Regions from separate parts of the Homo sapiens genome. Here region 1 is linked to region 2. A link means that fine-mapping ties the variant in region 2 to the expression of a gene that starts in the linked region. Tissue or cell type: esophagus mucosa. Region 2 holds a variant in brackets; the other region holds the start of a gene. All regions are shown on one strand. Distances are between the middles of the regions.

The links. PIP is the estimated chance that this variant, and not a neighbour inherited with it, causes the effect.
Region 1: it holds the start of FHIP2A, and the variant in region 2 is fine-mapped to the expression of FHIP2A in esophagus mucosa (GTEx, PIP 0.97).

Annotation. Positions count from the first base shown.
Region 1 is chr10:114,820,377-114,823,135 of GRCh38, reverse strand. FHIP2A (FHF complex subunit HOOK interacting protein 2A) reads right to left here and starts at 1,356. Exons shown (of 17, transcript NM_020940.4): 1 at 1,013-1,356. The coding sequence starts at 1,057. LOC124902508 (translation initiation factor IF-2-like) reads left to right here and starts at 188. Exons shown (of 2, transcript XM_047426127.1): 1 at 188-1,863. The coding sequence starts at 1,035. The coding sequence ends at 1,640. RefSeq lists silencers at 658-877, 938-1,287, 1,298-1,607 and an enhancer at 452-952.
Region 2 is chr10:114,675,187-114,677,945 of GRCh38, reverse strand. It overlaps a transcript of ABLIM1 not described here. Among named protein-coding and RNA genes, the nearest start is that of ABLIM1, 18 kb to the right of the region's middle. The variant C/T (reference allele first, on the strand shown) is at 1,544.

The DNA of each region.
Region 1 (2,759 bases), 150 kb before region 2:
AAGTGTACATTTTAAAGTGTCCTATCACATAATATGAACATAGGAAGAGAATGTCATGTTAAAAATTAGCAAAGTAATTGTTTCTGCACAGAATGCATTTTTCAATTTGGGCAGTTCTCCCAGAATAAAGTAAACAAGTGAAGCAACTAGCATTCTTACTAGAACAGTGACAAGGCATTTTCTTTTTAGTTTCTTTTCACTTATTAGTCTACTAGGATACTTGAATACTGTCTCTATGCTGGTGTCTAAAACCCTCAAAGGAGAGTACAATTGCAGGATAAACGAAGAGTGTCCAGGAAGAGAACTAGACAAGAAAGGAAACAGATGGTCTCTGGGCTCGGTGAGCTTGGAAGCTGTCGAAAGCAAACTCGACTGGACCCTCCAAACTCCTATTTCAGATCAATACATAAGGTTCAGCTGAGTTCGGCCTCCAGGCCCAAGAAAGCAAAAGCCAGCAACCCGGGGGCTGGTCGGCGGCTCCCTCGCCAGGGACGCCCCACAGCGAGACCATGCCTCTCCCACCTCTACCCCCGAAAACCAAAACAAAACAGAACCAAGCCCAAGCGGTGCTTGCTCGTTTCTTTTGTCTTGCTCAACGCTGACCACTTTTTTTCCGGAGAAGGTTAACGTTAAGGGAGCCCGGGGGAGCTCTCTGCGACCCCGCCAGGTGCTCCCCGAACCCCCGGCCCCATCAGAGGAATGAGGCGACCACCGAGCGGCGTTGGGCGGCCAGGTCCTCCCCGGCACCCCCGCCCCGGCTCCTGGAGGAGGGCAGGGACTGCCGGCCTGGGGCAGCCAGGGACCGACGGGACCCCCGCAGAGCCAGGCCCGAGGCCCCGGGCGCCCCCACGACCCGGCGGCCGCCCAGGGCGCCCGCCTGGGGCCTCACCCCAACCGGGGACAGGGCCGCCGAGGGCCGGGCCAAGGCCGCCCGGCTTGTCCCCGAGGCCGCCGGGGAGCGTAGGCCGCCGCCATCCCCGGCCTGCCGTGCGCCCGCAGCCCGCGGCCTTACCGCCTCCACGGCGTGCTGCAGGATGGAGGTGAACTTGGAGAACATCCTGTCCCGGGACTGCAGCAGCCTCTCCCGGGACGACCTGGAGAGCTCCTCGATCCGCCGCCGCCGCCCCTGCTGCGGCTGCCGGGGCCGCTCCAGAGTGAAGGCCGGTGCGGGGCGGGGAGGACGAGCTGAGGATCGAGGCAGGGCCTGGCCCGGCCGCTTCAGGTGTGCGCGGGCGGCTCGGCGGCTCCGGAGGGCGCCGGGACGCGGCGGGCGGCGAGGAGGGCGTTCGGCGAGGACTCGGGGCCCGGAGAAGCTCCGGCGGCGGCACCGGTTGGGACACGGTGGCAGCCCGGCTCGGGTTCCTTCCCCCCGCTCTGCCCGCCGCGGCCTGCAGGGGGCGCCGCCGCAGCCCGGGGAGGCCCGGCCAGGCCTGCCCTGCGGCGGGGCCGCTAGGCGCCGCGGGGGCGGGGGGCGCGCTGAGGCCTCGGCCTCGCGCGGGGCTGGAGGCGGCCTGTGGGCAGCCACCGCCCTCTCCCGGCTTTCTCAGGGCGCCTGGGACACCGGCTTTCTAACATTTTTACAGCTCAGCGATTCTCAAGAGTTTTGTTTCTCCAGTGGAAGTAACAGGCTGACTTTGTAGGGACACGCAGCCGTCCATATATGCGTATAGCATTCAGAGGTTCTTCCTGTAAGGACCGATTTGGAAGACTCGTTAAGAAAACAGTGTTCTTTAAGCAAACATTGGCAATGGATTTAAATGCTCAGATTTTGAAGAAATCAACGACTGCAGGTGAAATGGCTTTGCTAACTTTAAAATATATTATTATTCAACATTGAAACAGGAAATCCCACATGAGCACATGGTAAGACGGCTGGCTTAGTTTAAATAGCCCATTATAATATTTATATATAATATATAACATAATTTATTTGTGATATGGTTGATAGTGAGGTGTAGTGATTCAGAACAGCATTTTCTATTCAGTTATCAGATGATACCGGAAAACATTAGCGAGGGAAAGAATCTGAAAGGAGTCCAGTAAATGCCTAAGGCAGATAAATAGAGCTACAAGGTAAGCACTTGGGTGGAGGCTGCTTAAAATACTCCCTAACAGTGTATTAGTCAAGCCTTGAAGAAGCAGTTCAGGCTGGTAAAGTTTAGGTTGAGTTAATACAAATTATGAAAATATTTGTATCCTGAAGAAATTTGTTTTATGCTGGTATTGGCGTTTTACCAAAAGGTTCATTAAGTTCTTAAGATGAGGTGGGGAGTGAGTTTTGCACAACCAGTGCTGAAAATACGTATCTGGCCCAGGCGCGGTGGCTCACGCCTGTAATCTCAGCACTCTGGGAGGCAAAGGCGGGAGGATCACTTGAGGCCAGGAGTTCGAGACCAGCCTGGCCAACATGGTGAAACTCCGTCTCTATTAAAAATACAAAAAAAAAAAAAAAAAAAAAATTAGCCGAACGTGGTGGTGTAATGGGATTACATGCTTGTAATCCCAGCTACTTGGGAGGCTGAGGCAGGAGAATCCTTGAACTCGGGAGGCGGAAGTTGCAGTGAGCCAAGGTTGCGCCATTGCGCTCCAGCCTGGACAACAAGAGCAAAACTCCATCTCAAAAAAAAAAAAAAAAATACACACACACACACACACACACACACACACACACACACATACATGTATACACACACATACGTTTATACATACACAAACGTATATATACACATACGTATATATACATGTATACACACACACAC
Region 2 (2,759 bases):
CACCAACTTTCATGTGTTTCCTCTCCATGTTTGGAGATAGAATGAAGCCTGGAATACTGTTACAAAATGAACAGTTTTTTGCTAGAAATCTTTAATACCAGTTTACTCAATTACAGTCAGCTTGTAGTTGGGAACCTGTAGTTAGATGATTTCTTTTTTATTTTTATTTTTTTGAGGCAGAGTCTGGCTGTTGCCCAGGCTGGAGTGCAGTGGCGCAATCTTGGCTCACTGCAACCTCCACCTCCCAAGTTCAAGTGGTTCTCCTGCTTCAGCCTCCCAAGTAGGTGGAATTACAGGCGCATGCCACCACACATGGCTCATTTTTTGTATCTTTTGGTAGAGACGGGGTTTTACCATGTTGGCCAGGATGGTCTTAAACACCTGGCCTCAAGTGATCCTCCCACCTCGGCCTCCCAAAGGGCTGGGATTACAGGCGTGAGCCACTATACCTAGCCAGTTAGCCAGATTTCTGCTGATTAAACCCAGATACAGAAGAGTTTGGAGTGTAGCTTTAGGAAAGGTGGGAAGGCAGAATGCTCCTTGGATAAGAGGCTTAATGCTATCAATATTTTTCTCAGGCTTTATACTTTTCTCAGGTATTTCTGGGTTTTTTGTCCTGACAGCAATGTCATAATACACACAGAAGAAGGGGCGTGAGGGGGATTGTTTTATTTCATTCATTTCACTATTATATACTGAGCTCCTACTATGTGACAGTCACCATGCTAGGACCTGGGGATACAGTCATGAGAAAGGTGGCTATGAGTCTTCCCTTTGTGGAGCTCATAGGCCAGCAGCAGTGGCAAACAAGTGGACCATAGCATGCCAGGGGTTCCAGGAGGGTCCCCCAGAGGGAGGGAACCAGGCTTTTCAGAAGTAAGAGGGATTTTTCTTGAGGTAGATAAACTTGGCCAGGCACGGTGGCTCATGCCTGTAATCCCAGCACTTTGGGAGGCCAAGGCAGGGCAGATCACCTGAGGTTAGGAGTTTGGGACCAGCCTGGCCAACATGGAGAAACCCCGTCTGTACTAAAAATACAAAAGTTAGCCAGGCATGCTGGTGCACGCCTGTACTCCCAGCTACTCAGGAGGCTGAGGCAGGAGAATCGCTTGAACCCAGGAGGTAGACGTTGCAGTGAGTCGAGATCATGCCACTGCACTCCAGCCTGGGTGACAGAGACTCCATCTCAAAGAAAAAAGCTTCATACTGATTTTATATACATATGATTAAAATAAAACCGCACAGTGAAAGGACTTAGGAGTCTCCATTCCTAGTCATTAAGCCTGAGATTGGCAATAAAATTTAAAGGAATTCTTGAGGGGTTTTGAGAACACAATAATCTGAAATCCCCCGAGTTTCTTGGGAATACCATTTCCCCAAGAAACATAATCGTATAAATCCAGTCTCATGGTTACTGATTGTTCTCTTACATTTTCTTTTTTTTTGTTTTTTTGAGACAGAGTCTTTTTTGAGATGGAGTCTAGCTCTGTCGCCAGGCTGGAGTGCAGTGTCGCGATCTCGGTTCACTGCAATCTCCGCTTCC[C/T]GGGTTCAAGCCATTCTCCTGCCTCAGCCTCCCGAGTAGCTGGGATTACAGTCACGCACCACCACACCCAGCTAATTTTTGTATTTTTAGTAGAGACGGTATTTTGCCATGTTGGCCAGGCTGCTCTCAATCTACTGACCTCGTGATTCACCCACCTCGGCCTCCCAAAGTGCTGTGATTAGAGGCGTGAGCCATCGCGCCCAGTCACATTTTCTTTTCATTTGTTGTTATACCAGTTGTGTTTCCTTCTTTTCTTGAGAAGTCGTCTTGCCCCACTGTCAGGTAATTTCCTTTCTTCTGGTTATGCATTGAATTGTGTCCTCACAAAGGACGCTGAAGTCCTAATCGCCAGTACCTGTGACTGTGACCTTATTTGGATCACCTTAACAGACCATCAAGTTAAGATGAGGTCATGAGGGTAGGCTTTAACCTAACATGAGATGTCGTTAAAAAAAGGGAAATTTGGATGCAGAGATGGACATGCATAGGTAAAAATGGCATAAAGACACAAGAGAACCATCTCCAAACCAAGAAAGGCCTGAACCTACCAGAGAGTAGCAGAGAGGAATGGAACAGATTCTCCCTCACAGCCCTCAGAAGGAACCGACTCTGCACTCTTTGACTTTGAATTTCTAGTCTCCAGAACTGTGAGACAGTTTCTGTTGTGTAAGCCACCCAGTCTACGATACTTTGTAATAGAAGCCCCAGAAAACTAGTACATCTTAGCTAATGCATAAGGTCCTGGTAAGCATGACAGGAGTTGTATATGTAAATACACGCAAAGGCTAGTGGCTGGTGTATTAGTCTGTTCTCACACTGCTATAAGGACATACCTGAGACTGGGTAATTTATAAAGGAAAGAGGTTTAATGGACTCACATTTCCACATGGCTGAGGAGGCCTCACAATCACGGCAGAAGGCGAAGGAGGAGCAAAGTCACCTCTTACATGGAGGCAGGCAAGAGACCATGTTCAGGAGAACTGCCCTTTATAAAACCATCAGATCTTGTGAGACTTATTCACTATCACAAGAATAGCATGGAAAAGACCCACCCCCATGATTCAGTTACCTCCCACTGGGTCCCTCCAGTAACATGTGGGGATTTGTGGGAGCTACAGTTCAAGATGAGATTTGGATGGGGACACAGCCAAACCATATCAGCTGGTACATACTTGTCATCTTATTGTAATGTAGGCTTCAGCTTGGGAGTCATCAA